5 separate regions of the Homo sapiens genome follow, and regions 2, 3, 4 and 5 are each reported to be linked to region 1. The links are microRNA targets in miRTarBase. Many come from high-throughput screens and were not tested one by one. Region 1 holds a microRNA gene; each other region holds the end of a gene's coding sequence.

What was found. The annotated mature microRNA hsa-miR-876-5p reads UGGAUUUCUUUGUGAAUCACCA and lies in region 1 at 2,962-2,983, opposite strand. An mRNA with a match to its seed (bases 2 to 7 or 8) in the 3' UTR can be bound and repressed. Matches are read on the target gene's strand: a 7mer-m8 pairs with bases 2 to 8, a 7mer-A1 pairs with bases 2 to 7 and ends in A, and an 8mer does both.
Region 2: miRTarBase lists MAT2A as a target of hsa-miR-876-5p. Seed matches in the 3' UTR shown: 7mer-m8 at 1,883-1,889.
Region 3: miRTarBase lists ZNF707 as a target of hsa-miR-876-5p. The part of its 3' UTR that is shown has no 7-base or 8-base seed match.
Region 4: miRTarBase lists TMX2 as a target of hsa-miR-876-5p. Seed matches in the 3' UTR shown: 7mer-m8 at 3,114-3,120.
Region 5: the mRNA of RPS16 is a reported target of hsa-miR-876-5p. The part of its 3' UTR that is shown has no 7-base or 8-base seed match.

The regions. Positions count from the first base shown.
Region 1 is chr9:28,860,714-28,864,989 of GRCh38, forward strand. MIR876 (microRNA 876) reads right to left here and starts at 2,993; the gene lies at 2,913-2,993. All of the region lies in intron 2 of LINGO2 (leucine rich repeat and Ig domain containing 2), which reads right to left.
Region 2 is chr2:85,542,952-85,547,227 of GRCh38, forward strand. It overlaps MAT2A (methionine adenosyltransferase 2A), which reads left to right. Exons shown (of 9, transcript NM_005911.6): 8 at 1-83; 9 at 719-2,330. The coding sequence ends at 821. It overlaps GGCX (gamma-glutamyl carboxylase), which reads right to left. Exons shown (of 15, transcript NM_000821.7): 15 at 1,769-4,276. Among named protein-coding and RNA genes, the nearest start is that of MAT2A, 5.9 kb to the left of the region's middle.
Region 3 is chr8:143,693,754-143,698,029 of GRCh38, reverse strand. It overlaps ZNF707 (zinc finger protein 707), which reads right to left. Exons shown (of 6, transcript NM_001100598.2): 6 at 2,645-4,276. The coding sequence ends at 3,500. LINC02878 (long intergenic non-protein coding RNA 2878) reads right to left here and starts at 915. Exons shown (of 2, transcript NR_015445.1): 1 at 389-915; 2 at 1-91.
Region 4 is chr11:57,739,727-57,744,002 of GRCh38, reverse strand. TMX2 (thioredoxin related transmembrane protein 2) reads right to left here. Exons shown (of 8, transcript NM_015959.4): 8 at 3,030-3,904. The coding sequence ends at 3,758. It overlaps SELENOH (selenoprotein H), which reads right to left and starts at 2,512. Exons shown (of 4, transcript NM_170746.4): 1 at 2,286-2,512; 2 at 2,049-2,194; 3 at 1,756-1,886; 4 at 453-1,140. The coding sequence starts at 2,407. The coding sequence ends at 1,786. It overlaps BTBD18 (BTB domain containing 18), which reads left to right. Exons shown (of 3, transcript NM_001145101.3): 3 at 1-489. All of the region lies in intron 2 of TMX2-CTNND1 (TMX2-CTNND1 readthrough (NMD candidate)), which reads right to left. RefSeq lists enhancers at 2,001-2,170, 2,321-2,370, 2,691-2,810.
Region 5 is chr19:39,429,892-39,434,167 of GRCh38, forward strand. It overlaps RPS16 (ribosomal protein S16), which reads right to left. Exons shown (of 5, transcript NM_001020.6): 3 at 3,774-3,870; 4 at 3,631-3,678; 5 at 3,246-3,527. The coding sequence ends at 3,382. Among named protein-coding and RNA genes, the nearest start is that of RPS16, 3.9 kb to the right of the region's middle. RefSeq lists an enhancer at 1,553-1,672.

The sequences.
Region 1 (4,276 bases):
GAATGAAACATAACAGGACAAAATGCAGTCAAAATGAATACAATAGATATAGTCAATGATGATGCAAAAGCAATTTCCGAAGTCTGTATCACTGTCACTTAGTTGTACAAATGTGTCACTTAAGAAACTAAAGGTCAGAAGTTTTCAGAGTTCTGACAGTCTTGTGGTCATAGCATTGAAGTTAAATAAGACTTAAGCTCTAGCCTTATAAATAAAAAAAGGTAAAAAATAATATATATAATATATTATATATCATTAATATATAAATCTATAATATATTATATTTATTAATATATAATATAATATATTATATAATACATATTATTAATATATAAATGTATAATATGTATTATTAATATATAAATATATAATATAAATTATATAAATATATAAAATATATTTATATAATATAAATTATATAAATTTTTATATAATTTATATTATATAAATATATAAAATATATTTATATTAATATATTTTATATATTATATATTTTTTATATAATATTATATAAATATATAATATATATTTTTTATACAATATTATATAAAATATATAATATTTATATATTATATATTTTATATATTATATATTTTATATAATATACTATATATAATATATATTATTAATATATATACATATTTAATATATATATACACACAAAAATCTTGTTGGTTCTGTTCTCTAGAAAATTCTCACAGATAACATTCATTTAAACATATCTATTCTCATATAGTTCTCACAGAAATTAGGGAAGCTTGATATTACCTTGTCCATAACAGGAGACCTCAGGTTCACTTTGAACACATGTTCTACTCATAACTGCACTCAAGCATGAGTATCTAGTGAGATTGTGTTGCTACAAAAATAAAATAAAATAAAATAAAACAAAATAAAATAAATTAGCTGGGCATGGTGGCAGGCACTGTAGTCCCAGCTCCTCAGGAGACTGAAGTGGGATGATTGCTTGAACCCAGGAAATCAAGGCTGAAGTGAGCTATGATTGCACCACTGCACCCCAGCCAGGGCAACATATGTTTTTTGTCTCTTACCAAAAAACACAAAACCTACACTAAAAATTAATTCATTGTTTGTAAACCTGTATTTATCTTAAAAATAAAAAAAGCGGTAGTGAAATAAATATAAAGAAGTTGGGATTAAAATTAGGATACAAGGATATAGGTACATGATTATGAGATATGCTTATTAGTCCATTAGCACATCCCATTATATCTCCCGTAAACTAAAAATTATCTTAAGAAAAAATATTGTGACTTCCTTCTAAATTCATATATCAGCAGTTCTACATATTATCATTAAAAACATAAGCTTCGGCTCAAAGGAAATTTTACAGGTGCCCCCTTTCATAAAACAGAAAAATCAAAGAGCTCTAGGACAAATTAATTTCAGAAACCTGTCTTCTCAGACTCTTTTCCCACCTGTCCTCACACATCAGCAAAGTAGCACCCAACAAAAGCACAGGAAATCCCAGAGCTCTGTGGATTTTGCTTATGAACATACAGTCCTATGAAAAATAAGGTTACATATGTATCAGACAAGGAATGGTAATAATAAATACTGAAGAATTAAAGGCTAGGAAATAAGAATAACATGTTTGTATCATAGTTCAAATTAAATTAGAGTAGCAAGATATTTCTTAGGTAAAGCATTTCCAATCATATTTATACACATATATTTTAAGGTTAAAAGTATACATATTGATTCATTCTTTTGGTCATTTATATGTTGAAAAATAATATACTGATTTTCTTTTATCTAACAGAAGGGCTTAAAAATTAGTATGCTAATTTATTTAAAGTCACCCAACCTTATAGAGCATATGCATAATCCACTTCTAAGGAATGAAACATAACAGGACAAAATAAAGTCATAATGAATACAATAGATATATTCAATGATGATGCAAAAGTAATTTCAGAAGCCTGTACCACTGTCACTTAGGTGTCCAGATGTGTCACTTAAGAAATTAAAGGTCAGAAGTTTTCATAGTTCTGACAGTCTTATAGTCATACCATTGAACTTAAATAAGACCTACGCTCTAGCCTTGGAAATAAATAAAAAACGGTAAAACCAAAATGACTATTTGAAAGCTTAATCAGTTATTAAAATAGTTAATCATCAATTGTTTGATTTATGGTCAGGGATAATCCATTCTTGGTAATCCTGATGACAGAAATGACCACAAAGTTCCATTTATTTTAATAAGCAATTACTAGTCAACAATTAGGCTTTTGTGACCTTGTAAAGGTTACACAATCTTTTCTGTCATAGAATAGGACTATAGATACTGTTTCCAGAAGAGTAAATGAAAATGAATGCCCAGTGAATACCTAATTTTAATATATGCCATCAAAATGTACAATTTGGTATGTTAAGGTGATTTTTTTTGCCCACACCAATGTTTTTCTTGTTAAAATAAAATGTTGCTTTTTACAAAAGTACTGCATAACAATGATGTCTTCAAGCCCCTGATCATTTACCAAACTATTTAATTAATATATTAATTGGGCATAATAATCCAAATAAAATATGATATTTAAACTTCAAAATGGTATGCTTAGGATTTAAGGGGCTGATTCAATTAATGTTTCTGATGTATCATGTTTTTTTAACCAAGAAATATTACAAATTACTTTTCAAAAAAAGAACAGTAGAGACAGAGACAGCAACTATGTAAAACATGTATATTTAGGTAAAGTAACCATAATTTCTGGTGTGTTTGACACAGGTTTGATCACTGTTAACACTAAGCACCAAATAGAAGGATTCTAGAGTATATTTACCAGGGATCTCTTGACTTTGTGTGTCTTGTAATACAAAGTGGCTTGTTCTCAATGGCTCAGTAAAGGAATCTTAGGCTTCATGGTGTAGATCAACTGCAGAAGCACCTGTGAAGCACTATGAATTACTTTGTAAACCACCACCACATTAGCTTAGATATGGTGATTCACAAAGAAATCCACAGCACTTCACAGTTTGTGTAAAGCCTGGTACCTATGAACCAACAAAAACAGTACCCTTTGGCCACCAAAAGTTGAGGAAGTATTTCCATCTAGTTCACAATCAATTGAAGAATATGCTCAGTTTTGCACCACCCTCTTTTAGCTGAAACACACAAGAAACACTGAACATTTATTTTAAGTAAATAAAACTTAAAAATAAATGCATGCTTTCTATATTATATACCAGTAAATTTCATTTAAAAGAATTCCTAATACAATAACTAGCATGACATTATGCAGGATGAAAAAACAGGGTTCTGCTCATCAAAATAAAAGGGCATGGTTATTAATATAGATGTCAGGAGTAGGGAGTAGAATAAATAATAAAACTATATGTAATTCTCACATCCATATCACAGTATATAAGTGTTGCTGGGATAATTTGTTCTAAAGATATCCTCAGTTACTTAGCTTCCCACTTTATACTCATATAATCTCATATCCTATGACACAAGCTTACCAATGTTACAAATCTGCCCTTGTACCCCTGAACTTAAAATAAAAGTTCAAAGGCAATCATTAAATGAGTTTAACCTGAGTGTTTTTTCCTCTGATATTTGTCCAAGTAAGTATTTTTTCATATGACTGCTGAAGTCCAAGAATGTTTATAAAACTAAATTCTATATTATACATATTAGGTTCAACTCTGAAAGAAAACCACACCAATAAAAAATGAAAAACAAACAATAAAGTTACTCTCCTTTGCAAAATAACCAGAATCCCACCTTTTAACTTTTATCTAAAGAGCAAAAAGAAAGGTTTCATTTATAATTAATGAAAAGAATCTATAAATCTTCCCAGCCTAGTAAGCATAATATCAATCAAGTAATTCATGCTTTTGAAAATTTCAACATTTTTCAAAGTAACCATCAAATGTCAACATTAATTAAAAGTTTGCTTTATAGAAGCTCATGAACATAAGAGTCCTAGGCAGTTCACCACTGTCAGTGTAGGTCACTGCTCAGGAATACCCTACTCACCTCCACCAACCACACATATAACAACCAAGCCAAACTTGCTAAGTATCTGAATAATTAAAAATATTTAAATAAAAAATTTGTAGAAAATATGTATGTATGAAAAAAAAATATTTGTTTTGCGCTTATCATGTGCCAGGCATAGTCTTGGTTAGATGCTGGGGATATAAAAACTCCAGGTTTCAAGAAATACAAAGGAGAAAACAAGAATTTGAAAAAAGCAGTAATAGGTGTTATGAAAAGTTTCCATATAGGGCTAATGGAGACATGGAGAGG
Region 2 (4,276 bases), not on the chromosome of region 1:
TATGGTACCTCTCAGAAGAGTGAGAGAGAGCTATTAGAGATTGTGAAGAAGAATTTCGATCTCCGCCCTGGGGTCATTGTCAGGTAAAGATGGTAAAGCCTGTTGCTAGTCAAGTATTGAGGGTGTTGGGTGTGTGTGTATATACTTAAGGCTGAGGAGGTGAAGGTGTGAAGGAAGACTCCTCAAATGGGAATATATTTTAATTCCTGGAACAGTTTTGAACTGCTGCCTTAGTGAAGACTTAGTTATTTGAGAAATTTAAAATTACGGTGCTCCATGGCTTAGGCTAACCACTCTAGAGAATGTTCCAGATTTGATATTTGAGCTTTGTGCTCTTCTACTTAAGGGTGTTAAGAAAATAGAGATAAAGTGGGTTGCTCAAGGTTTGTTGCAATGTAAAAACCATGGTAGGGTGTGGGCGGCGGGACCTTGGTAAGTATTGTGTGATCTCAGGTGAGCTTTTTGACAATTGAAATTTCTCAGAATAATGACAAGTTTTCGTATTTGTTGAGCCAGGGACGGAAAAACAACTATAGTTACTAATAAGGACTGTGCAAGGAGTTTGGACACCAGGGAAGTAACACTTTTGCCACAAATTTTTTTCCTAGCATATCCCAGAGAACTCATTTGCCAGAGCTCTTGAAAATGAGTCTTGCTGATTGTTTTGCTTTATTTTAATTTAATGCTACATATTAAGTTACGGACTTGTATATTCCAGGGATCTGGATCTGAAGAAGCCAATTTATCAGAGGACTGCAGCCTATGGCCACTTTGGTAGGGACAGCTTCCCATGGGAAGTGCCCAAAAAGCTTAAATATTGAAAGTGTTAGCCTTTTTTCCCCAGACTTGTTGGCGTAGGCTACAGAGAAGCCTTCAAGCTCTGAGGGAAAGGGCCCTCCTTCCTAAATTTTCCTGTCCTCTTTCAGCTCCTGACCAGTTGCAGTCACTCTAGTCAATGACATGAATTTTAGCTTTTGTGGGGGACTGTAAGTTGGGCTTGCTATTCTGTCCCTAGGTGTTTTGTTCACCATTATAATGAATTTAGTGAGCATAGGTGATCCATGTAACTGCCTAGAAACAACACTGTAGTAAATAATGCTTTGAAATTGAACCTTTGTGCCCTATCACCCAACGCTCCAAAGTCATAATTGCATTGACTTTCCCCACCAGATGCTGAAAATGTCCTTGTGATGTGCACGTAAAGTACTTGTAGTTCCACTTATAGCCTCTGTCTGGCAATGCCACAGCCCTGTCAGCATGAATTTGTAATGTCTTGAGCTCTATTATGAATGTGAAGCCTTCCCCTTATCCTCCCTGTAACTTGATCCATTTCTAATTATGTAGCTCTTTGTCAGGGAGTGTTCCCTATCCAATCAATCTTGCATGTAACGCAAGTTCCCAGTTGGAGCTCCAGCCTGACATCAAAAAAGGCAGTTACCATTAAACCATCTCCCTGGTGCTTATGCTCTTAATTGCCACCTCTAACAGCACCAAATCAAAATCTCTCCACTTTCAGCTGTCTTTTGGAGGACGTACGTAATAAGGTTTTAATTTAGTAAACCAATCCTATGCATGGTTTCAGCACTAGCCAAACCTCACCAACTCCTAGTTCTAGAAAAACAGGCACTTGGCAGCCTTGTGATGTCATACAGAGAAGTCACAGGGCAGTACCTGAGGGTCTGTAGGTTGCACACTTTGGTACCAGATAACTTTTTTTTTTCTTTATAAGAAAGCCTGAGTACTCCACACTGCACAATAACTCCTCCCAGGGTTTTAACTTTGTTTTATTTTCAAAACCAGGTCCAATGAGCTTTCTGAACAGCTGGTGTAGCTACAGAGAAACCAGCTTCCTTCAGAGAGCAGTGCTTTTGGCGGGGAGGAGGAAATCCCTTCATACTTGAACGTTTTCTAATTGCTTATTTATTGTATTCTGGGGTATGGCGTAAGTACAGAGAAGCCATCACCTCAGATGGCAGCTTTTAAAAGATTTTTTTTTTTTCTCTCAACACCATGATTCCTTTAACAACATGTTTCCAGCATTCCCAGGTAGGCCAAGGTGTCCTACAGAAAAACCTTGGGTTAGACCTACAGGGGGTCTGGCTGGTGTTAACAGAAGGGAGGGCAGAGCTGGTGCGGCTGGCCATGGAGAAAGCTGACTTGGCTGGTGTGGTACAGAGAAGCCAGCTTGTTTACATGCTTATTCCATGACTGCTTGCCCTAAGCAGAAAGTGCCTTTCAGGATCTATTTTTGGAGGTTTATTACGTATGTCTGGTTCTCAATTCCAACAGTTTAATGAAGATCTAAATAAAATGCTAGGTTCTACCTTAACTGTGTCTGTTACTCATTTGTTAAAGTGCTTTGGGGCCATAGGTACGTGCCTATAATCCCAACACTTTGAAAGGCTGAGGTAGGAGGATCACTTTAACATAGAAGTTGGAGGCTGTAGCGAACCATTATCAAGCCACTGCACTCCAGCCTGGGTGACTGAGACTTTGGCTCTTAAAAAATGCTATCATATGAATAACCTGAGAATACTATATGTGTATCTTTAACCTTGAATTGTAATCCATAATTAGCCATAATTCAGGAAAATAACCTCAATCCCTAGACCCAGTGGGTGGGCATTTTTTAAAAGCCTAAGCAAGATTTAGTCCTCCTAGTCCACTTAAGCCAAAATTCATGTGTCCTTATTGCAGCAGCCATTCAATGCCATTTTTAAGTTTTCAACTAAGGTTGAGGGCTTCAAACCATTGAAGGCATAAAAACCGCTAAAAGTATTAACCTGGAAGTGGTAATGTCTATCTAAAGTCCTGGCAATTTAAGCCTATTAATCTGCATACATTTTTAAATTATGAGCTTAGTTTTAAGGGTTGTATGATGTTTTCATCTGAGAAGTTCTGAAACGTGATTTCTAGTCAATATCTTGCAGAGATAAATAATGCAAATTAGCTGAAAATGCTATAAATTTCCAAAGGCTTAAATTTCATTTATGGCAGGTTGTGTAGAAAATCCGCAGACCACACTGCTCTTGAACCTAGGAGCTACATGCATAGAGAATAGCCACTTGGATTACATTTCTACCAACATCTGAATGGTGGTCCAGCTTGTCCTGCAAATGTAGAGCCAAGGAGTGCTTGCTTATGCCTGTTTGCATGGAGACTTAAAAACTTGGAAATTTGGAGGCCAGGCGGAGTGGCCTGTAATATAGGCCACTATATAGTAATATAGGCGTGAGCCTATAATCCTAGCACTTTGGGAGGCCAAGGCATGCAGATCACGAGACCATCCTGGCTAACACAGTGAAACCCTGTCTCTACTAAAAATATAAAAAAGTTAGCCAGGCACCTGTAGTCCCAGCTACTCAGGAGGCCGAGGCAGGAGAATGGCGTGAACCCGGGAGGTGGAGCTTGCAGTGAGCTGAAATCGTGCCACCACACTCCGGCCAGGGTAACAGAGTGAGACTTAAAAAAAAAGCCGTGGAAATCTGGGTATGGTAGCTTACACCTGTAATCCCAGCACTTTGGGAGGCTAATGCGGGTGGATCACCTGAGGTCACGGTTTGATACCAGCCTGGCAAACTGAAACCCCGTCTCTACCAAAAATACAAAAAAGCTGGGTGTGGTGGCAGGTGCTTGTAATCCCAGCTACTCAGGAGGCTGGAGAATCACTTGAACCCAGGAGGCAGAGGTTGCAGTGAGCCGAGATGGCGCCATTGCACTCCAGCCTGGGCCAGAGCAAGGTTCCTTCTCAAAAAACTTGGAAATCTGTTGGGAAGTAGGGGGAGGGCAAGGTTAAAACCTATGCAGGTGTGTCAATTAGACTTGTTCCAACTTGAGAACCTGAATTTTGCATGTAATTGAAATGTTCCAGAACAAGTCTGGCAGTTTCATAAGGGAGTTTTTAGATGCCAATACATTGCAGATAACCATATTGGCTACATTAGGGGAATGAGCATGGATAGGTGCCTCCAAGTTGGTAGAATAGCATGAGAAGTTTTCAAAAGTAACCGCTTTAAGGTTATGTTCAGTATTTGCTAAGTAAACAAAGATTCCCCAACCTTGAGGGAGCTTGTGGACCAAGGGGATAGTGTTGTCCTGCCCAGCCTAGGGGAAAAGTATCCTGAAGGTTAATAAGGTGGTGGAGGAACATTAGGCCACAGGGAGCAGAGGGAAAGCATAACAGCAGGGGATGATAAGGGTGATTATAGTTTAGAAAGCATGAAAGTATGACTTAAGGAAATGTCTTTAGGTTGAACATTCTGTATATAACCTGCCT
Region 3 (4,276 bases), not on the chromosome of region 1:
GGCGGCAGCTACCATGCCCTGCTAATCTTGGTGGACTTTACACTGGACACATGTGTGCTGAGCGCTAACACAAAGGCCAGGCAAGTGTCCCCTGGAGACAGAGGGGTGGAAGGCTAGGTCACAGGCATGGCTGTCAACGGACCCTGCTGTGCACCCATTCTGGCCGCGAAGTAGCTTCATGCATTCTCTGCCCAAGATAAATGCAGAGAAAACTCGGCTCTACAGGCTCACAGGGAGTGACGGCTGCTGGCCCCAGGAAGGAAGATGCTCCTTACGGGACACCTGCTGTGAGCCCCTTCTGTCACCCCACCCCCGCCTGGGTGGTGAGGAGGCCAACAGGGCAAGATGCAGAGCCTCCCGGCCCCTCACACCCCCATGGGCTCCTCACCACCATTCTCTCCCCAGGCCTTTTCTGTGGACCTGACCTTCTTCAGCGACCCAGGAGGCAGGAAGGGAAGCCTGAGTGTTAGAAGGAAAGACAACTAAGAGCAGCAGCCTGACCGCAGCTGAGCACGGTCGTGCTCCTCCCTGGGGAAGTGCCAAGGGAGGGACCCCCTGCTCTACCCGGAGCCCTGGAGCCCTGCTAAGCAGGGTGGAAAGCCTGCAGCCCGGGGGGTACCGCGACTGTGGCCCAACCATCCAGTGTGTGAGCCCTGGATGATGAGGCCACCAAGAGCAAGGCAGCCCGCTTGGACAACTGACCATCATCTGACGAGGCAGCGCATCACCCACGTCTCTGCTGTTCACATTTAATCCTGCACAAGAGCGTCACAAAGTGACAGCATTGTGAGGGACTAACGACCAGGCACAGGTGACCCTGGACGCGGCCAGTGGCTTCCTGCAGGGCGCTCAAAACCCAAGTCCTTATGATCCGCCGCATCTACTGCCGAGACACCAGCTGCTCCGTCCCCACCTGTGCTCAAGCACCTGAAGGCCCTTCCAACGGCGCCCGCTGGGCAGGGGACAAACCAGACACGAAACACACATGCGCTTTTACCAGCCTGGACTCTGTAAGAGAAAGGCACCCCCATATCCCCCCTGGGGAGATTTCCACTTATCCTGCAGGGCCCTCACTGCCTCACCGGGCTCTGCCAGGGCCTGCCCCGCAGGGGCAAGTGCTTTTCCTACACAGGGTCTGTGGGCCAGGACAGACCCAGAGGAGCTTCTGCTACGGGCTGAATGGTCACTCTGAAATTCCCATGTGGAAGCCCTAGGCCCGACGTGATGGTATGAGGAGGTCTCTGGGAGGTGATTTGGCTTCGATGGGGTGATAGGGGTCATGGGATCCGGGCCCTCACAAGGAAAAGGTGACACCAAAGCCCCTCCTGACATGAGGATGCCTCTGAACCAGGAGGCGCTCGCCGGAAACGGACCCTGTTGGCACCTCTACCTCGGACTTCCAGCCTGCAGAGCTGGAGAGAATAAACCTGTGTTGTCTGTGGGGCTGCCGGTGGTGTCCTGGTAAGGCAGCCCTGTGACTCCATGACCGACAGCTGCTCTCTACAATCTTCCGTGAGCACGAAGAAACTCATACTCATGCTGCAAATAAAAGATTTGGGGAACTTTTAAGCACACCAACCTCCCGGCTTCAACAGCTGTCAACATTCAGCCAATACTGTTGTGTCTTTCTCCTCTTTATTAGAATCGTAAAGTACATCCCAGGCGCCACGTCATTTCCCCACAAAGACGTCCAAATGCATCTGAGTGAGGATTCCTCCGTAACCCTGTGTCACCATCACCGCTAGCAGCCAATTCCGCACCCCCACCCGACTCACGGCCCACCCACCCGACTCACGGCCCACCCACGCAACTCACGGCCCACCACGCAACTCACGGCCACCCACCCGACTCACAGCCCACCCACCCGACTCACGGCCACCCACACGACTCAGTCCATCCACCCGACTCACGGCCCACCCACCCGACTCAGTCCATCCACCCGACTCACGGCCCACCCACCCGACTCAGTCCATCCACCCGACTCACGGCCCACCCACCCGACTCAGTCCATCCACCCGACTCACGGCCCACCCACCCGACTCAGTCCATCCACCCGACTCACGGCCCACCCACCCGACTCAGTCCATCCACCCGACTCACGGCCCACCCACCCGACTCAGTCCATCCACCCGACTCACGGCCCACCCACCCGACTCAGTCCATCCACCCGACTCACGGCCTACCCACCCGACTCACGGCCCGTGCCCACATTTCCATGATTGTCTCAAAAGTGACTTCGCACTCGGTTTGCTCCTACCAGGGTCACACACAGCCCCCTCGGCCTTTCTGCGTGCCCGTCTTCCCACAGAAACGTCGCCGTCTGGTGGCATCTCCAGCCGGATCTGGCTCAGGGCTTCCTCTCGGTGTGTTCAACCTTCTCCTCATCCCCCTATTTCTTGTAAACTCGTTTCTGATTCCAACATTACATATGCATCTGTTGGCTGGAATTTTTTTTTTGAGACGGAGTTTCACTCTTACTGCCCAGGCTGGAGTGCAATGGCGCAACCTTGGCTCACCACAACCTCCACCTCCCGGATTCAAACGATTCTCCTGCCTCAGCCTCCCGAGTAGCTGGGATTTCAGGCGTGAGCCACCACGCCTGGCCTGGCTGCAATTCTTAAAGAAAAACAGGCAAAAGCAAAAATAATTGGCTAACCTGAAACACGGCAGTGTCCCGACCCATTCCCACGGGGGTCTTCCCTTGGGAACACCACTGGCAGATTTTTATTTCTGGCTGGATAAGCAGACACCTTAAGTTTAAAACAAAGAGGTCACCTCTTCCCCCACGAAATGCGATGTGGTGGATATGGCCACCTCACTGCCCTGAGACCCAACTTGATCTCCCAACTCCAGGTGCATGACCCAGGCTCTGACCAACAGAGCTGGGTGGAGGCCGTTCCTGCAGCACTGGGGGTGGCCCTGACCTAACCACCACTCCTAATCCTTGAATGAGGTTCAGTATTACAAAGGCTCTTGTTTCTACGGCCCAGCGCAGAGGCTGCAGGAGGGTCTTTGCCTCTGTGCAATGCTCACAGCTGCCTCGCCCAAGACAGAGACAAGAAGGGAAGCCAGACCGGGCAGCCAGCATGGGGTGCAGAGCCAGGAAGGAAAGGCCCAGCAGACGGCGACTCGGGGCCAGGGTGGAGTCCCTGAGCCAGACGGCTGTGGGCACCAGGCAGGCTTCTCCGCCTCTGAGCCCGGCCTGGCACGTGGCTCCGGGGTCGCGCACACTCTCAGCACATCCCCAGGATGCCCGGCGCCGGGGCGCAGCCCCCGCCATCTCCAGAGCCCCCGCCATCTCCGGCGTACCCATGGCTCTGCTTCTCCCACCTGGCAGTTTTCCCAGTAAACTTCTCGGGGGACTGGGGAGCTCTGAGGACTAAGAAGGCTTCTCTGAATTCAGGTTGATTTTCCAGGCTGAAGAGCAACTTCTCACTGCAGCTCTCCCTCAGGACCCAGTACTCCCGCAGAGGCGCAGCACCCCACTCTTCGGGCGCCCCTACACCTCCCCGTGCCTGTGAGTCCTCTGATGCCGCGTGAAGAACCCCAGGTGACGGAAGCCTTTCCCACAGTGGCCGCACTCGTAGAACCTCTTCGTCAGGTGCAGCCTCCGGTGGATGCTGAAGCCCTTGGGCCACCGGAAGGACTTGCCGCACTCGGCACAGGTGTAGGGCTTCTCCCCGCTGTGGACCCTCTGGTGGTGGCTGAGGTTCTCCTTGGTCCGGAAGGCTTTGCCGCAGTCCGCGCAGTAGAACGGCCGCTCCCCGGTGTGCACCAGCTGGTGTCTGAGAAGGTTGGACTTCTGCTTGAAGGCTTTCCCACAGTCGCCACACGAGTAGGGCCTGTGCTCGGTGTGGACCTTGCGGTGCTGAGCCAGGCGGTCCTTCAGGCTGAACGCCTGCCCGCAGGCCTCGCAGCAGAAGGGCTTCTCGCGCGTGTGGTTCTTCTGGTGGCGCTGCAGGTTTGAAGCCCACCGGAAGGTCTGGCCGCACTCGGGGCACTCGAAGGCCTTGGTTCCCGTGTGCACCGTCTGGTGAGCGAGCAGCCGGCTGTGGCAGCTGAGCGCCTTCCCGCACGTGCCGCAGATGAATGACAGCTCTACTGCGCGCTGCTTCCGGCGCTCTCTGCGGCCCGGCCGCCGCCCACAACGCTGCGTGAGCACCTGACACGGGAAAGCCGTGGGCTTGGCGTCTGTCCTTTCTGGAGCAGCTCTGGGAAGCTGCCCGTCATCCGTGTCCAGCCTGAAGCCCTTCCTAAAGCTGCTTCCTTCCCTGGC
Region 4 (4,276 bases), not on the chromosome of region 1:
TTCCTCCCTTCCCTAAGCCTCAGAAGCCAGGCAGAAGCCAAGGGTACCATAGATAGAAAATTATGAACTTGTACCATCTTATTTGTAATCTATTTTCCGGTTAGTGACAACTGAAACAAACTGTGTGCTCCCCAATTCTGGTGGGTCATAGGTAACAGCCAAGGCCAGATCTCTCAGGTCATAAGGCATCCAGTCACTGGTAATTTAGGAAAAGCTGAGAAAGAACACCCTCCTCTGTGGTGGGGTATTGTTTAAGAAAATGTTCCAGAGGAAGGTGTGAAGCAGTGTTGGGTGGAATACTAAGTGGGTGGGAGTGATGGATGCTGTCCAGCACCCAACGTGGGGCTTATTCACTGCCAGTATTAGGAAGTCTAGCTAAAACCTCTGCAGGGGCCAAGAAGATGTACTTCCATCATTACTTCCAAAAAGTAAGTTGAAAAAGATACAGTTGCTTTTTTAAAAAATAAATTATTTACTTTGCTCCCATAATTTTTACAAGTATTTCTCATGTTTTACCAGAGATCATAAAAGTTGCAGGTCAGGCCAGGTGCGGTGGCTCATCATGCCTGTAACCCCAGCACTTTGGGAGGTCAAGGCAGGCATATCACTTGAGGTCAGGAGTTTGAGACCAGCCTGGCCAACATGGTGAAACCCCGCCTTTACTAAAAATAAAAATAAAAAAATTAGCCAGGCGTGGTGGTGTGCACCTGTGATCCCAGCTACTCAGGAGACTGAGGCAGGAGTATCGCTTGAACCTGGGAGACAATGGTTGCAGTGAGCCGAGATAGCACCACTATACTCCAGCATGGGTGACAAAGTGAGACTCTGGCTCTTAAAAAAAAATTTTTTTTTAAAAGTTCCAGGTCACATGGCTATCTTGGGCTATGAAAAACACAAGGACTACCAACTCCACAAGGCTGGCTTTGTCCATCCCTTAAGATTAAGTTTTACTCTATTACTCAAATACTTTATTTCAACTTTTATTAAACCAAATCCAGTAACTTTTACAATGCCTTACTAGAGGGTTGCCTCATAACTGAACCTTCATTTCTGGCAGGGAAGAAACCATGGCTTCAGGATCATGACTGAAGTTTGGCCATGTTCCATCATTAATGTTCCAACATCACCAGGGACACAAAGCTGCAAAAATGAGAAGGGAAATAAGGTTAGAGAAAGGATCTGGGCAATCTTAAGGACTGAGGAAGACATGTTCCCCAACCCTTGAACTCACAAACCCTGAAGCTCAAGGATTGCATCCTTCCTCCAAATCTCACTCAACATAATAAGTGCAGAACAACATGCCAAAGCACTGTATGAAGCACTAGGGACAAAGACAAGGTCAAAATCCTTGTAACCAAATTTAATGGTATTGTAATGCAGTGTTAACACAGGACAGTAACAGAACACCCAAGAACCAAACAGAAGAGGGTAGGGATAAGCATAAATGAAGTAACATGAAATAAACTTCCAAATGGAAAACTTGTCCATACCCCCAGGGCAAGTCAACTACAGTCTCCCAAAGGACATAAATTCCACTTAGGGCACACTAGACAGAAAACAATATTGTGTCTTTTTTTTGTTTTTTGTTTTCAAATAGGGTCTCCCTGTGTTGGCCATCCACTCCTGCCTCGACCTCCCAGAGTGCTGGGATTGCAGGCGTGAGCTACCCACGCCAGGTGGGTACTTGTAGCCACACCAAGATCAATGCCTTCTCTTCCTCAACAGCGGTCGCGCCCCCCACTTCCCATTTCAAACCTCAGCATGAGGGCTTCTACCCAAATCTCCCTACGACAGGTACTTCTTCAACTCTTCCACCACCTCTTGAGGCTCAGGGAATTTGAGTTTGCGTGGGGGCCCCTTCTTAATCCCAGTCCAGAGCTCCGCACCTGAAAGGCCAGAATGAAGCGAAGTTACAATACTTCGGAACCCACGAGCACGTCTCTGAAGTCATGAGACTGCCGTGGTTTCTAAGAATAGCGCTTCCTGTCTTCGGAACCCACGTCCCTTTCACCCACGTCCCTCTCCCCCACATCCAGGTCCCCACTTACTGCTGCCGTCCGGGCGCAGCAGCGTCACCTCGAAGCTGCCCCTCCGGGGCTTCGTCGGGTTCACCTTTACTGGAAGCTCTGGGGCCTCCAGGCGCAGCGCCTGGCTCAGGGCCGCGGCGTTGCGCCCATAGACGCGTCAGCTAGTGCTAGGGAGAGACGGAGAGGTTAGAAACCGGGGCCCCTGGCCCCCCCCGGCGCCACTGTTCCCTCTCTCCCGTTACTCTCCAGGCCCCTCACCAATGCTCGATAACAACGGTCGCCTCCTCCATTCCCTCCCCGCCGTTCGCCAGCTTCTCTCGCTTCTCGGCTACGGCGACCACCGCGGCCTCAGCCTTACGCTTCCTCCCGCGGGGAGCCATGGCGCCTAGAGCCCGGCCGAGAATGCAGCGGGACTGGTGGGTGGGGGGCGGAGACGCGACCACTGAGCGGAAACTGGGCAACGAAGAGCGCAGCCCGGAAGCTCTGCTCCTACAGCGGAAACCTCTCTCAAAGGAAGGGAAAGCTTGGCCCGCAGCACCCACGTGGCCTGGAGGCGGACCTTGGGGCACAACCACTTTGCAAGCAGGGAGCGGGAAGGTGCGGGAAGCGCCTGACGGAACCACCCATCGCTTCGGGTGGAGGGGACAGGGGACGCTGGGATGGTGAACACAGCAGGAAGGGGCGGAGACTAGGTCCGACTGCTAGCCTCGCTTCGCGCAATCTTTTCTGTACCTTTGCATGGCGCTAAATGTTGTGTGCCACCATCTGCCGCCAAACTCTCCTCCCTGGCAACCGCAGGCCAATCCCAGAGTAAACCCACCACCTAACAACATGTGGCCGCTATTCTAGATTTATGGAAACTAGACTTCTCCAACTCTTGCCAGTCCTGGGGATCAATGCCCGGCATTTGGTGAAACCAAATAGGATGGCCTTTGCCCTTAAGATGGGCAATTCCTCTGCAGTTGTCAGGCTTTTCTAATACAGAAACACACAAACGCGCAATCAAAAGGAAATCCCAATCTTTTTATTACGGAAAGCCATCAACTGGGTGTGGGGAGTATGTCAGAGGGTTAGTGAAAGTCCAGGGGATTTCTCCTCCAAGTCCTACCACACAAAGGAAAGTCTCAAGCCTCTATTCACCCCTTCTCAATCCCCACAAAATAGGGGGTTGTTCAATATTGTCTTCAATGATAAAAACTTTGTGGTTAAAGGTTTCTCCTTAGGACTAGCGACAAAGTTAGGCTTATACTTTTAATGAAGACCATAAACGAAGCCAGAAGGGCTTAAGGAAGCAAGAGTCCTTGGGGGAAAATTCTTAGCGTTCTATACCCCAGCATCTTACCTTAGGGTTAAATCTAGGTCTAACCAAGCTGTGCAGGTCAACTAAGAAGGAATGATGAAACCACAGAGTTTCATGGAGAAACCATGGAGATGTCTGAATAGCTGATAAGCAGTTAACACACTGACCCAAGCTTGGAGGGAAACCATTTCCCCCTCCGTCCTATGAGATCTCTTTCTTGCTCCAGTGAAACAGTTGGCCACAGCATGGCAGGCCTTCCTGTAGGGTGCCTGACAATTCCCTAGATGCCTCTTTAAAATCAGAAGCTGCATGCTGCCCCACCCAGTCACAGCCAAAGGGAAAACATAAATAAAAGGCTGCAGCCTCAGGCTTGTGGTTATGGAAAGAGCCTGGAATTGACAGGAGAGGAAGCACTGCCAAAGTGAGGATCTTATTTATCCTTCTTGTTTTCCCCATCTGACACTGTGGTGGGGGTTGAAGCCACAGGCTGCTCCTCAGGGATATTGTCTCCAGCCTTTGATAGTTTCTTGGCCCGCTGGTATAGCTCATTTAAGTTAAATTCTCGGATCACATTCTCCTGCACAAAAGAGATGCACACGTCAGGATCTGGGTTGGAAGGGAGAGTAAAGAGCCTGGGAAGTAAGAGGTATTTTACACAAAGTCTGGGAAAGGAAGGAGTAAGCAAAGGACAAAAATCTTCCCTAACCTTCCTCTTTTTTAGGTACCCAGAAAAGTCAACTAATAGTTAAATACCCATTATGTGCCAATCACCGTGCCAAGAATTATACCTAAATTATTTAATGTAATCTGCAAAACAACCCTGTAAGCCAGGGGTTATTACCTCCAATTAACTGACAGGGAACCTAACACCTACAGACAATAGGTGCAGTGGCCTTCGAGACAGAATCTTTTTTTTTTTTTCCTGATGGAGTCTCTTGTTGCCCAGGCT
Region 5 (4,276 bases), not on the chromosome of region 1:
TTACAGGCATGAGCCACCGTGCCTGGCCTTTTTTCTTTTTTGAGACGGACCCTTGCTCTGTGGCTCAGGTTGGAGTGCAGCGGCAAGGTCTCAGCTCACTGCAACCTCTACCTCCAGGGTTCAAGCAATTTTCCTGTCTCAGCCTCCTGAGTAGCTGGGACTACAGGCACACGCCACCACACCCAGATAGTTTTTGTATTTTTAGTAAAGACGGGGTTTCACCATATTGGTCAGGCTGGTCTCCAACTCCTGACCTCAGGTGATCCACCCGCCTTGGCCTCCCAAAGTGCTGCGATTACAGATGTGAGCCACCACGCCTGGCTTTTTTTTTTTTTTTTTTTTGAGGCGGAGTCTCGCTCTGTCGTCCAGGCCAGAGTACAGTGGTGCAATCTCTCAGCTCACTGCAACCTCCACCTCCCGGGTTCAAGCCATTCTCCTGCCTCAGCCTCCCAAACAGCTGGGACGACAGGCACCCGCCACCATGCCCAGCCTTTTTTTTTTTTTTTGTATTTTTAGTAGAGACCAGGTTTCGCCATGCTGGCAAGGCTGGTCTCGAACTCCTGACCTCAAGCCATCCACCTGCCTTGGCCTCCCAAAGTGCTGGGATTACAGGCGTGAGCCACTGGGCCCAGCCCCCGACTCATTTTATGTATCCTGTGTCAGTGCTGTCCCATATAACCTTCCTTGATGACGGAAATGTTCTAATATGTGCAGCCCCGCTTGGTAGCCATACATGGCTTCTGAGCACTGGCTACTGTATTAACTAGGGTAGATACATAGAAAGTGGGCAAGTGGACAGAAAATCTCAAGTTGTAAAACATTCCCCCTGAGCATTTAGGTGCGGGACTTCCCTATTGGCTGCAGAGGCTGGAACTAGGAAGTAGAAATCTCTGCGCTCCCCAAACAATGAAGTTCACTCGCTTCCTATGAGTCATTAGCCACTCAACGAAGTCCTCACTTAACGTCATCAATAGGTTCTGGGAAACCGTGACCTTAAGCGAAACGACGTATAAGGAAACCAGTTTGTTTAAAGGACTGTTATTACAGGATCTGCTTGTTTTGCTTAAGTCCGTTTCCAAGCACCTATACAAAACGCTGAGGATGCACTGTGCTTTGAAGCCCAACTCCTCTTCCAGCACCGGCAGCAACCCTTGCGTCATTTGTGACTCCTTGGGAGGGGGAAGAGGGCTGTGGTCACTCAGTGCCCCATGACGAGCACATGGCCCGGCACAGGTGTTCAAGGAAAGTGAATGAGCAAGTTGAGGCCACAGACACCCGAAAACAACTCATCACAGACATGGTCTCCCTGGCTACTCTTCCTACCGGCCAGCAGACCCTGGTTCCCATGTCCTCTCCCCCAAGGAGTCCACCTGACTCCTCCAGGCTGTCAGGCACCGCTTGAGTCCCACAGCCTCTTGTGCTTTTCCCACAAGCGGCCACCCTGACTCCTTAGCTCCTCATGTTGAGGGGCCACAGGGTAGAGATGGGGCCTCTTGAGCAGATCTGTGACAACCTAAACTAGTAGTCAAGAACCTGGGCTCTAGGTCGGGCGCGGTGGCTCACGCCTGTTAATCCCAGCACTTCGAGAGGCCAAGGCAGGGGGATCTACCTGAGGTCAGGAGTTCAAGATCAGCCTGGATAACATAGTGAAACCCACGTCTCTACTAAAAATACAAAAATCAGTCAGGTGTGGTGGCACTTGCCTGTAGTCCCAGCTACTCAGGAGGCTGAGGCAGAATTGCTTGAACCCGGAAGGCGGAGGTTGCAGTGAGCTGAGATTGTGCAGCTACACTCCAGCCTGGGTGACAGAGCAAGACTCCGTCTCCAAAAAAAAAAAAGGCGGGGGGGGGGGGGCAGGTGTGGCGGCTCACACTTGTAATCCCAGCACTTTGGGAGGCCATGGCGGGTAGATTACCTGAGGTCAGGAGTTCCAGACCAGCCTGGCCAACGTGGTGAAACCGTCTCTACTAAAAATAGAACAATTAGCTGGGCAAGGTGGCAGGCGCCTGTAATCCCAGCTACTCGGGAGGCTGAGACAGGAGAATTGCTTGAACCCGGGAGGCGGAGGTTGCGGTGAGCCGAGATCACGCCATTGCACTCCAGCCAGGGATACAAGAGCAAAACTCTGTCTCAAAAAAAAGAAAAAGAAAAAAAAAGAACCTGGGGTCTTCCACAGCCCGGTTACCTGTCCAAAATGCCACTTTGGGCTCGGCATGGTGGCTCATGCCTGTAATCCCAGCACTTTGGGAGGCTGTGGCAGGAGGATCACTTGAGGTTAGGAGTTCAAGACCAGCCTTGCCAACATGGTGAAACCCCATCTCTACTAAAAATACAAAAATTAGGCTGGGTGCAGTGGCTCACGCCTATAATCCCAGCGCTTTAGGAGGCAGAGTCGGGTGATCACTTGAGGTCAGGATTTCAAGACCAACCTTGCCAACATGTTGAAACCCTGTCTCTACTTAAAAAAAAAAAAATTAGCTGGGTGTGGCAGGCGCCTGTTCAAGCAATTCTTTCCTTCAGCCTCCCAAGTAGCTGGATTACAGGCGCCTGCCACCATACCTAATTTTTGTACTTTTAATAGAGATGAGGTTTCACCATCTTGGCCAGGCTGATCTTTAACTCCTGACCTTGTAATCCACCAGCCTTGGCCTCTCAGAGTGATGGGATTACAGTCGTGAGCCACCGTGCCCGACTCTCCTTGTTTTCTTTGTATTAAAGATTATTGGCTAGGCATGGTAGCTCACACCTGTAACCTGGACACATTGGGAAGATGAGGCAGGAGGATTGCCTGAGGTCAGGAGACCACGCCTGGGCAACATAGTGAGACCTGTCTCTACAAAAACAAAAATTCAGCTGGGGGTGGTGGCTCTCGCCTGTAATCCCAGCACTTTGGGAGGCCCGGGAAGGCGGATCACTTGAGGTCAGGAGTTTGAGACCAGCCTGACCAACACAGTGAAACCCATCGATACTAAAAATACAAAATTAGCATGGCGTGGTGGTGGGTACCTGTAATCCAAGCTATTTGGGAGGCTGGGCTTGAAAAAAATAGACATCCACAAGGATGAGCCATATATCCGCCAAGGTCTGCAGCCACTAATGGCCCCAAACGACTGCCATCTCAGCTTTGCCTGCACACTGGACTCTACTGGAGGTGTAGAGACAGAGACCCCCTGCCTTCTGCTTCCACTCACCCACACCAAGCCCAGCGCGACCACTTCTGGGGAGGGTCAAAATCCAGACTGGCAATAGGTCCAGGATGTTTACTGATTTCTGTCTGGTTAAACATCCAATACCAACACATAAGGCCACACACAGTTCTTGAAACTTTAAAATCCCTCAAAAACTGTTTATTATACAAGTGAGTTTTGAGTCACGATGGGCTTATCGGTAGGATTTCTGGTAGCGAGCGCGGGCACCAGGGCCTCCAAACTTTTTGGACTCGCAGCGACGAGGGTCAGCTACCAGCAGGGTCCGGTCATACTGGATGAGGATGTCTTTGATCTCCTTCTTGGAAGCCTCATCCACATCTGGCAAGAAGAGCAGGGACGAGGATTTAGATAATCACACAGAGTCCTTGACTTGATCCCCACACACCCATCTACCTCATGGGAAGGACCCATGCTCACTCACATTTCTGGTAATAGGCCACCAGGGCTTTGGAGATGGACTGACGGATAGCTGTGAGAAAGACACACAATTAAAGGGTACAGGAGCGCTGTGAAGGCCTCCCTCCCAGAGCCACCTCCTCCATGCGCCCAGTTCCTGGGACTCACCATAAATCTGGGCCACGTGACCACCACCCTTTACACGGACACGGATGTCTACACCAGCAAATCGCTCCTTGCCGAGAAGCAGAACTGGCTCCAGCAGCTAAAGGAATGGGGAATGAACAGGGATTTAAGTTACATGCTGGGCAGCTTAGCCATCTCACTGGGCTTCTTGTTTCTGTGGCTTCTGCCACCACTGGCCTTCAAGTACTAGTGGATGGGGGTCAGGGTGTCACTCCAAGGCCCTCTACAGACCCAGAGAAGAGGAAAGTCAAAAAAGCCAGATATGAGACTGCTGAAGTGGTGTTAAGAAATATAGGCAAGGTAAAGGGAACAAGATCTGGGCTCCCTCCTACTTGTGTCCCTCACTGGACCTCAGACACCCTACCTCTAAGACTGGTTCTTAGAAGGCTGAACAGTAAGGAGCATTCCAATAGCTTCTGAAACTCCCAAGGCTGTTTCAAGTAGTCGAAAGCCATCCCTGGACTGTTCAGGTGCCTTTTCTATTT